4 separate regions of the Homo sapiens genome follow, and regions 1, 2 and 4 are each linked to region 3. The links come from fine-mapping of genetic effects on gene expression. A gene starts in region 3. Each other region holds a variant in brackets. All regions are shown on one strand. Distances are from middle to middle. Region 1 has its middle 29 kb from the start of C14orf132. Region 2 holds the start of LOC124903374 (a long non-coding RNA gene). Region 3 holds the start of C14orf132 (chromosome 14 open reading frame 132). Region 4 overlaps C14orf132 (chromosome 14 open reading frame 132).

Region 1 (2,676 bases), 29 kb before region 3:
ATCCTGTCTCAAAAAATAAAAATAAAAATAAATTTAAAAATCCTGGCAGGACTTTTTTGTAGAAATTGGCAAAGTAATTCTAAAATTTTTATGGAAATTTTAAAAAATAACTAGAATGGCAAAACAAATTGTAAGAAAAGTAGCAAAATTGGAAGACTCACACTACCAGATTTTCAGGCTTACTATAAAGCTGGCAGTCAAGAGAATCTGCTATTAGAAAAGGATTAACATCTAGATTAGTGGAACAGACTAGAATAGACCAATACACATGTGGTCATTTGGTTTTTGACAAAGTCCCAAAGGCAACTTAATGGAGAAATGATAGTTTTTCTCAACAAATTGTTCTTGGACAATTGAATATCCCTAGGCAAATAAATGGATATGCCTCAAGGCATGCATTACCCACTATAGAAATATTAACTCAAAATAGATCTCAGGCCTAAATGTAAAGCCTAAAACCACAATACTTTTGGGAAAAAAAAATAGGAGAAAATCTTTATAGCCTTAATTAGGTAAAGCTTTCTTAAATACAACACCAAAAACATGACCCATAAAAGAAAATATGATAAATAGGGCCTAATCAAAATTAAGAACTTCTGCCCTTTGAAAGACACTTTAAAAAATGGAAAGACCAGCCACAGACTGGGAGGAAATGTTTGACATTACATGTCAGGTAAAAGACTTGTTTCTAATGTATAAAGAACTTTTAAAACTCAATAAACAAACAACTTTTAAAATAGACAAGATATTTAAATGGGAACTTTTATCAAAGAAGATATACAGATAACAAATAAGTATATGAAAAGATGCTCAATGTCCTTAGTCATGAGGAAAATAGAATTTTGGACCAAAATGAGATAAAGCTACATACCAATTAACATAACTTTATAAAAAGCAAACCTGATGACAGGAAGCTTAGGTAAGGATGAGGTGCAACTGGAACTCTCATACCTTGCTGTTGGGAATGCAAATGGTACAGACACTTATACTTTGGCATTTTCTCACTGTATGAGGCCATTCTTGCATTGCTATAAAGAAATACCTGAGACTGGGTAATTTATAAAGATAAGAGGTTTAATTGGTTCACGGTTCTGCAGGCTTTACAGAAAGCATAGTGCTGGCATCTGCTCAGCTTCTAGGGAGGCTTCCGGAAACTTACAATCATGGCAGAAGGCAAAGGGTAATCAGGCATGTCACATGGTGAAAGAAACAGCAAGAAAGAGAGAATGGAGAGGGGGAGGTGCCACACACTTTTAAACGACCAGATCTCATGTGAACTCAGAGCAAGAGCTCACTTATCATCAAAGGGATGGCTGAAGCCATTCATGAAGGATCTGCCCCCATTATCCAAATATTTCCCACAAGGCCCCACCTCCAACATTGGGGATTACATTTCAATATGAGATTTCAGTGAGGATGGATACTCAAACTATCATTCTATCCCTGGCCCATAAAATCTCATGTCCTTCTCACATTGAACAACACAATTATACCTTCCCAATAATCCCCCAAAGTCCTAACTCATTCTGGCGTAAACTCAAAAGTCCAAAGTCTCATCTGAGACAAGGCAAGTCCCTTCCACCTATGAGCCTGTAAAATCAAAACAAGTTATTT[C/T]CTCCCAAGATATAATGGGGGTATAGGCATTTGGTAAACATTCTCATTCCAAAAGGGAGAAATCAGCCAAAGAAAGGGGCTACAGGCCCCACGCAAGTTCAAAACCCAACAGGGCAGTCATTAAATCTTAAAGCTCCAGAATAATCTCCTTTGACTCCATATCCTGCATCCAGGCACACTGGAGCAAGGAGTGGGCTCTTAGGAAGCTCTGTACCTGCTGCTTTTCCATGCTGAGATTGCAAGTTACTGGTGGTTCTACCATTTCCACTTCTGGAGAGCTGCGGCACCCTTCCCACAGCTCCACTGGGTGGTACCCCATTGGGGACTCTGTGTGGGGACTCCAACCCCACATTTCCCCTTGGCAATGCCCTAGCAGAGGTCTCTCTGGGGGCTCCACCCCTGCAGCAGACTTCTGCCTGGGTATGCAGGCTTTCTCATACAGCCTCTGAAATCTAGGCAGAAGCTGCCAAGTATTCTTCACTCTTGCACTCTGCACACCTGAAGGCTAAACACGACATAGAGGATGCCAAGGCAGCAGGCTGAGCTGTATCTGGGTCCCTTTGAGCCAAGGCTGGAGCTGGAGCAGTCCAGATGTGGGGAGGAGTGTCACAAGACTGCACAGGGCATAGAGGCCCTGGGCCTGGCCCTTAAAACCATTTAGTCCTTCTAGGCCTCAAGGCCTGTGATGGGAGGGGCTGCCTCTTAGATCTCTAAAATGTCTTTGAGGCCTTTTCCTCATTGTCTTGGATATTAGCACTTGGCTCCCTTTCAATTATGCAAATATCTCTAACACATGATTGATCCACAGTCTGTTTGAATTCCTCTACTGAAAAAGCTTTTTCTTTCTTTGCCACATGGCTAGGCTGAAAATTTTCCAAACTTTTATCCTCTGCTTCCTGTTTCCAACTGTTCCAAAATTCCAACTTTTAAGTCATTTCTTTCTTTGCACATCTGAACATAGGCTGTTAGAAGCAGCCAGGCTATATCTTGAGCACTGCTGTTTAGAAATCTCCTCCACCAGCTCCTCTAGGTTGTCACTCTTTAGTTCTAACTTTCAACAGA
Region 2 (2,683 bases), 57 kb after region 3:
GAGGCCTGCAGTTTCTGGAGCAGGGAGGCAGCAAGAGAACTGGGAAGGGGCTCTTGATTTTGCCCCTCGAACCTGCTCCTCTGGCATCTTCCCTCGCTCGCTGGATGGCACCTCCGCCCTGCACCAGTGTGGCTGATAAGGTGGGGTCTCCCTCCCAATCGTGTGCCTTGCAAAGATGGCAGAGGCTTTCACATGGCCCAAAGGACTGCGTTCTCAAGACTGATAAGCATCATTCTGAAATAGCAAAAATGGCTAGCAGCAAGGTTTTTCAAGAAAAGGAGGCATCCCTGGTCCAATGCTGCTGAATGTGTCTCAAGAAGCTACAGCCAGTCCAGCCCAGGCCACAGCGTGTCCCTCACTTCCTGCCCCACCCTCCTTGCTAACATTTAATTGATTTAATTGAATTTTTGGTTTTACCAATCAGGATTGTAAACACATTCATCCTCATGCAATGTGCCTATTCCTAGTCAACCCTGGTATTGTAAGGGTATGGGCAGCTTTCCTGGAGCAGAATGTCCATCTGTAATGTGGGGCCTGTAAAGAAATAAAGGTTCAAACAACCACAGCTCTTCACTCTGTCCAGGAGTTGGTTATGCTGTGGGTAGTGGGGTGCTCCTCTCCCCTAGGGATGAGCCGGTCCCCCATTAGCTGTGTACTCTTGGAGGGGTAATGCCTCCTCTGGCTCACCCCTTTGTCCTCCCCAGTGCCCAGCCCAGGGATAACAGTGTCAGGCTTTCCATAAATGAACTAATGAGGGGGACAGGGATGAACACCGCAGCCTCCCTTCGGTGCCTGCTGGAATGGCCAAGCTCTGCATCCGCTCCCCAGAGCTGCCTGAGCCTTTAGGGTTGGAGGAGGGGGAGAGGAAGGGGAGGGATGGGTTTCTAGGGCTGAGATGGGCCCCTTAGTGATTCTGGTGGGGCTGCCTGTTTATTTAGCTGCCTGCTACCCATGGTCTCCAAAGCCTGCCCTCGCTGGGGATTTTCCATCTGGCTTCCAGTGACTCAGGCTCCCGCAGGGTGCTGGCCTTACCAGGCAGCAGAGATGGCCCCACGATTAATATTGATACACGCCAGCTGCTGAGGCCTCTTTCGCAAGCAAGACAAATAATATTAACTACCACAGCAACCGGC[C/A]TCTGAGCCGCACTGCCCTTAGGGTTTGCAAGCACTTTCCATTCCAGCTTTCCATCCTCTGAACAGGTGATCTGTGTCGGCCCCTCCCATGCCCCAAGCACAACCAGGCAGGGCACCTACTCTCTGTCTTGTGTGGTGGGGGGTGGGGGGAGGCAAAGGATCAGATGAAGACAATGGGTTGTAACTGCATGATAGTGAGAAGCTGAAATGCGCCGGGGCTGAGGGGCGCCTCCTAACCAGCCTAGCACTCCAGGCCAGAACGCCAGGGAGACAAGCCTCCAGTTTTTAGAAAACAAAACTGAAGTTCATCGACTTGTTCATTCAATAAGCAATGACTGAGCACCTGCTATGAGCCAGGCACTGTTCTAGACACTCAGGGTGTATAGTGAACAAAACAAAGCCCCACCCTGCTGATGGCAAAGGGAAGGTAGACAAGAAGCCAATAAAGAAATAAAGATCAAGCCTTACTTTCTGAAAAACCAAAAGAAAGAAACAGTGAAAGAATGCGCTATGGAATGGAGACAAATGTTGGGGGAAACAGAAAGTAAGTGTGGGGCTGGAGCGGGAGGGGCATGAGGTTTTGGAGAGGATGATCAAGGCACTCCTATCCCCAGGGGAGAGGTGGTGCCAGTGTCTCAGGACAGGGTGACAGTTCAGAGAGGTGACCTGACAACGTGCCTGGCCACCCCAAGCTTCTGGATAGAGAGAGTTTTGTACTCAGTTCTTACAGAGTATTGTCTTGTCCCAGAAGTGCTTTTGGAAATAGCATCATTCATTCATTCATTCATTCATTCATCCATTCCTTCACTGAGTCTCTACTCTGAGCTGGACAGGCAAGGATACACCCTGGCTCCTGCCCCCACGGTACTCATGGTCCAGGCTCGAAGTCCCTGTGTCATGATCATGGTTGGGGCAGCAGGACCCAGTTCTCCCCTGAGATTAAGTCTCAGAAGACACCTGGTTAACCAGCCAAAGTCTGCATGAGGGTGACACTGGCTGGAGAGTGCCGCCCACAGGGAATGCTCAGGTGGTGCCTTATACCTCGTTGGAGCCTTCTGAGTGGGAAAGGCACCTCCCTGTGTGGCTCCTGCAGGTGCTGCTGGGGCCTAGCACCCTAGCACCTATCTCAAGAAGTCAGACATGGCTGCTGGGGCAGGTGCATGCTGGTCTTGGACTCTCAGCATCTGTTGTCACTCCTTTCGGTAAAGCATGCTATTTCCTCTTGGGGAGCCACAATCCGCAGTCTGTGTACTCGATCCCTCCTGGGCTTGGTAGCCTGAATGCCCCATGGTCACAATGATATGTGCAGGGTGTGTGCCTGGCTCTGGCCTGGGCAGTGGTGACCTTGCAACCCCCTGATCCCAGTGGCTGGGCCAGGAGTGATTACACAACCAGACAGATGCAGGCAGCACAGATGTCCTGACTTGTAAGCGAGCACTGGGAAGCAGTCTGCACGGGGGACCCTGTCTCTCTGCTGGAAGGAAAGCCAGGAGGATGTGCGCCTGTCTTGGCAGCTGCCATCTCACCGCTGTGAGAGAAGCTGCTGAGAG
Region 3 (2,675 bases):
AAGGGGAGAGAAGGAGAGAAGGAAGAGGAGGAAGAAAAGGAGGGAGAAAGGAAGGGAAGGAAAAGAAAAGAAAGGAAAGTTACAGGAAAGATAACACTGAAAGCCTTCTGTAGGTCAGTGAGGTTCTGGTCCCATTCCCATAGCCACAGTCCCTACTGGGCCCCCAGCTGCCGGGGGACCTTGAACAAACCCCTCCATCTCCCTGTGCCACAGCTTCCTTGCCTGTGACAAAGTCTGGGAGTCCCAGGCTGCCCCTCACAGAGGCTCGTGATGACCATGAGTGTAAAGTACCTGGAAGAGACATCACCCAAAGGGACCAGTCGTACTCACTGAGACTCCTTAGAGTACAGCTGGTTCCCTCCCAGTGAGCCCCCGGAGGGCAAAGCCTCCACGTGTCACCAAGTCTGTGGTGTCCACCACACACACACACACACACACACACACATACAGAGCAATGGGCCCCTGTGGGCGTCTCTTCTGTTCCCCTTACTTGAACTGTGGCACCTGCATGATTTTCGATACTGGTTTGAGCTGAGAGCCATGGAGTACCCGCTGTGCAACCTGAGCACCGTGCGGTCCTCGAAGACACCACTCACAGCCTCGTCTCTATTGGATGATTAGCCATGTTAGGGCTCTCATTTATTGAGGACACCGCGTGCTATATTCCCTATCTCATTTAATTATTCGGTTCTGTATTCTCTTTTCACAGATGAGGAAATCTAGGCTCAAAGACACTATCTTGCTCAAGCTGCACAACAAAGCAGGGCTAGGATTAAACCTCGTTCTGCCCAGATGCCGAGCCGGGAGTACACCGGACTCTGGGAGGAGCGTTGGCGTGGAAAGCCAGGTCACTCCGATCTTGGTCCTCAGGCTCGGGATAACGTGTCAGCCCCAAGAGAGCGCTGCCCACAGCCCCGGGTGGGTTGGGTTCAACTGCACGGGGCGGGGCGCCAACAGCTCAGGACTTGGGTTGCAGGCTGGTTCTTGCACCAACCAGCGGGGCGGCCTCGGGCCTCAGTTTCCCCATCCCGCCCACGAAGGGAGGCGATTGCGAGCGCTTGGGGTTTCTGACGGACCCCGCCCCGGGGGTGGGGCGGGGAGTGGTCACGTGGAGGGGCGCCCCGTCCGCCGAGCCCCGCCCCACCCCGCCCCGCCCGCCCCCGCGCTCGGGGCCCTCCGCCTAGTAGAGATCTGGAGCCAGAAGCCCAGAGACAGCCGAGTGCGCCGTGCGGTCTCCGGACGCTCGCTGCTCAGCCCGATCCCCGCCAACTGTGCAGGCGGCTGACCCGCAGCGGCAGCGGCAGCAGCGAGGACTCGAGCGCTGGCTGCAGCGACACCATGGATCTCTCCTTTATGGCCGCGCAGGTAACGGGGCGTCCCCCCCACGCGCCCCGGGCCGCCAAGTTTGGGGAGGTTCGGGGCCACGGTCTCGCCCTCCACGCTGGGGCTGGGCAGTGGCGCCCGCCCGCGATCCGCGTCCCGGTCCTTTGTCCCGAGCCGGACACCCCCACTTGGTGCACGCGTCGGGGGCGGCGATCGCGGCTCTCCCGGGGTGGGGCGGGCTGCGCGCCCCGCACCCCCGCGGCTCGAGCTGTTCCCGCCCGGGCCCCTCTCGTTGGCAGGAAGGCTGCGAGGAGCCTGGGCAGCCCGAGTCGCCCCCTTCTGCCCATCCCCCACTGCTGTCCCCCTTCTGGGGTCCCGGAGCCCTCCAAGGCCGGGCCAGCTCAGACCCGCGCGAACGTGGATGGGCACACAGTCTCGCCCTTCCCCACTCTGTTTTCCCGAGGCGCCAGTAATCTGTCTCTTGCCGGTGACCTCGGGCGCCCCCTTTGCCGCCGCCTGAGGAAGGCTCTGAGACCCGCTTTGTGACCGTGACCCGCCAAGCGTCGACGCGCCGCGGTCGTTTGTCCTGTTTTGCTTTGTGTAGAGTCTGATGGAGCCACCAGTGCCCAGCGCGGCCAGAACCCCCCCACCCCCCTCCCCGACACAAACAGGCTCCCAGTGGCCGGAAAAACAAATCTCTCACAGCTTGAATTTTCCTCCGGCAGAATGCCCTGGAGTTCTGAGCTTGGGTGATGATTCTATTTCTGTGCCTTAACTCTCTTGAGCCAGAACAAAGACAAATCCCGGATTTCTCCATCAGTCTGTGACCCTAGAGAAGACCCAGAGCTGGCTCCAGGGAAGGGCTGCGTTTGGCCTGGGAGAGTAAGTCCCAATCTACCAAAGCCACATCTTGCACCTTCTCTGGTTGTGTTGGTTGGTTATGGTGGGAGCAGAGAGGTCGGGAGGCCACCCAGGCTCCCTTCTGTCTCCAGGGTGTGTGGCAGGGACCCCATCTGCTGCTGTTTTCTTTTACAGGGAACGAAGTTTGAGGGGACACTTGCTTTTTCCCCAAGCTTCACCTGTAGTGGAAGCCTGTTTAAAAAGTGACAGCAAAATCCAGACTGTGTGTGGACAGCGAGTCTGCAAATGGAGGCTTAAAAGATGCGGAAGCCCCAAGTTAGTTCTGGGGGTCTAGATCCTGGCTCTCCGGCAGCCCCTTAAGTTTTCCATGATGCTAATTGCCCTTCTGAGTATCGCTGGCCCTTTTTTTTTTGCCTGATTTTACATCTCCTGTGCCTAAATCCATACTTATAAAAATTGTCATGTAAACATCATTTTAGATAATGATGGTT
Region 4 (2,683 bases), 52 kb after region 3:
AACCAGGAGGCGGAGGCTGCAGTGAGCTGAGATTGTGCCACTGCACTCCAGCCTGGGCAACAGAACGAGACTCTGTCTCAAAAAAAAAAAAAAAGAAAAGAAAAAAAAAAAGAGCAACTTACTGCTTTGTGAGGTTGTGAGTGGCCACCACTGAAGGTCTTTGAGAAGAGGCCAGACGCCGCTGTAGCCAGGCCTGTCTTAAGAGGACTTGTGCTTCCAGGGACCCAGGCAGGATGATGGCGCAGCTCTTCCTACTCCAAGCCAATGCTGTCCTTCCCCTTTCCCATGAAATCAAGGTCAAGAGGCAAATAAGACTCCCTGCTCCACTCTACCCCCCAGAGAGAAATGATTCTCGCTCCTTTCAGATCCCCCAGGATCTGAGGGAGAAAGGATGGGAGGAGGGGCAGCAGCATTTCGCTGGAAAGGCAGCAGATGCTTTTCCAGCCCCGGTTCAGCTGGAAGGCTTGGAGGCTGGCCAGACCACTCTGGCGTCTCCTGAAGTGGGTCCCTGGAGACCGAAGAGGCTCAGTGGAGTCTGTCTGTTGTCAGCACTGCTGCCTGATCCCTGCAAGACAAATGGCACTTTCCTTCTTCAGAAGCATCATCTGCCTTCATTATTAGCAGTAATATTATTCCCAGTTATTATTCTTACCGGTGCCAGTTTTGCACATCTTTTTGTTGCTCTATTTGTGTCTCATTTACTTCTCAAATTGCCCCTGGGGGCAGGAATGAGGATGCAGAGAGATGCACGTTAATTACTGTCGCATTTTTCTGTGGAGAAAACTGAGGCCAGGGCTGAACGCTCACAGCTAAGGAGCTGTGATTCAGACCCAGTTCTGTCAGCTCTAGAGGCACCCTGCATCATGCCCACCAGGGTGATCCCCCTGGGATGGACCATCTCGGGATATGAGGCCTCGGAGGCTGGGGTTGAGATTTGGTCCTGAAGAGCTTATAGCCAGATTGCCACATTCAAGTGTAAGTCCAGGAAAGGGGCAGGCGGCAGTGCACAGGGATTTATCAGTTCCAGAACCTCACAGTGATAAGAGGCTTTAGAGAGCATCTAATCGAGACCTTTAATTTTTCGGGGAGAGCAGCTGAGGCCGTGTGGAAAATTAGTGGAGAGCTGACAAGTGTCTGGGCTCCTGGCCCAGGGGTCCGTGGTCCAGCACGTTGTGCGTTCAGTGGGAAGCAAAGGGCTTGCCCGGGATTACCTGCCCCAGCCCCGAGGTGGGTTGTGCTCCCTGCAGCTGCCATCGGCCCGCTTTGCTTCGTCCTGGCAGATGCCCAGTGATTGTCCCCGAGCAAGTGCCAGGGTTGGGCTGAGCTGCTATGACAGGGAGGCCCAGGGAGTTCTGCTCAGGGAGCCAAAGGGAACAGCCAGATCCTGAATGTTCTATGTTCACCTGCCCCAGCCCCACCCACCCTGGCCCACTCCACAGGCCCCTGACCATGGTCACTCACGGAGAGGGATGGAGGAGAAGGTGGTTGAACTGAGTACTGAGAACCCAGAGGACAGAGCCCACAGCTTCCAAGCAGGAAAAGGGACCTCTCTGAAAAATCTGGATAACCAGAATTATCACAGCACC[T/C]TCTCATTCCCAGCGCGTCCTTCTGAGCTCAGACCTTGAGCATTTACTGGGTTTCTTTTTGAGGAAGAGGGAAAGTGACAAAGGACAAAACAATGCAAATCTTCATGACTGAAGACGATCAAAGACTCCCTGGAGCGAGAAAACAGTTACTGCCAGAAGCAGAATGGAAGAGCCAAAAAGTACACAAAATGGACGCCATAAATTCTGAAATAAAAGTGTATGATGTGTTCTGAGTCACTGTAGAAGTCATGCATTTATTATCAAGATAGAAAAGAGCAGAGAATGACGTGGACATTGGTCCTCGGAGAGGCTGCGTAGGTGGTGCGGTCCCCGGGGGATTCTGGATGCTGGTCTTTTGACCGTGGCGGCAGCCTCGCGCCTGCCCGGATGGCTCCATCCAGACATTTGGCAAGGCTGTCATCTGCTCTTGGGTCCTTTTTCAAGCTGATTTCCTGCCTCCCCAAGAGGAGGTTTGAGCCCCATTCTGCCTTGGAAATAAATCCTGACAGATGTGCACAGCATATTTGCAGGGAATTTGCAGGCCTCGATTATTGGGGGAATCAGAGCCCATTCCACACCGAGCCCCATCCACGTGGCTGAGCAACACCCCTGTGTCCCCTGTATCTGTCTCACTGGCTGTCTTTCTCCCAGTTTCTTAAAGAACCACACCATTACTGCGTTTGCCGTTCGAAGCGTTGTCCCAACAATGCAGATGGTTCTGACAAGGGCTCTATATGCTGGCAGAAGGGAGCTTCCAACCTTTTAACTTGAGGAAAATGAATCTCTGAGAGGCTTGAGAGTGTTGCCAGGTGGAGCTTTTCAGGAGACAGGGGTCTTGAGCCCAGGACACCTAACTATCGAGTTTTCACTAGGAGACTTAGTGGTGGCTTTCATGAGGCCAGTCGTTCTCAAGGAAGGGCTGGGGGCCATCAGCAATGTCTGGAGACATTTTTGATTCTCACAGCTTGGTGGGGACTGCTATTGGTATCTCATGGGTGGAGGCCAGGGATGCCACCGAACATCCTACAATGCACAGGGCAGCCCCCCACAAATAAGAATTATCCAGCCCCAAAATGCCAATAGTGCCGAGGTCAGGG

The links.
Region 1: its variant is fine-mapped to the expression of C14orf132 in whole blood (INTERVAL, PIP above 0.99).
Region 2: its variant is fine-mapped to the expression of C14orf132 in sun-exposed skin (GTEx, PIP above 0.99).
Region 4: its variant is fine-mapped to the expression of C14orf132 in fibroblasts (GTEx, PIP above 0.99).

What each region holds. Positions count from the first base shown.
Region 1 is chr14:96,009,059-96,011,734 of GRCh38, forward strand. No RefSeq gene overlaps it. Among named protein-coding and RNA genes, the nearest start is that of C14orf132, 29 kb to the right of the region's middle. The variant C/T (reference allele first, on the strand shown) is at 1,615.
Region 2 is chr14:96,094,937-96,097,619 of GRCh38, forward strand. It overlaps LOC124903374 (a long non-coding RNA gene), which reads left to right and starts at 886. Exons shown (of 2, transcript XR_007064321.1): 1 at 886-2,683. RefSeq lists enhancers at 1-73, 74-574, 2,024-2,525. The variant C/A (reference allele first, on the strand shown) is at 1,134.
Region 3 is chr14:96,038,163-96,040,837 of GRCh38, forward strand. C14orf132 (chromosome 14 open reading frame 132) reads left to right here and starts at 1,200. Exons shown (of 2, transcript NM_001252507.3): 1 at 1,200-1,365. The coding sequence starts at 1,339. RefSeq lists silencers at 1,050-1,239, 1,260-1,309.
Region 4 is chr14:96,090,312-96,092,994 of GRCh38, forward strand. C14orf132 (chromosome 14 open reading frame 132) reads left to right here. Exons shown (of 2, transcript NM_001252507.3): 2 at 1-2,683. Among named protein-coding and RNA genes, the nearest start is that of C14orf132, 52 kb to the left of the region's middle. RefSeq lists an enhancer at 1,862-2,031. The variant T/C (reference allele first, on the strand shown) is at 1,587.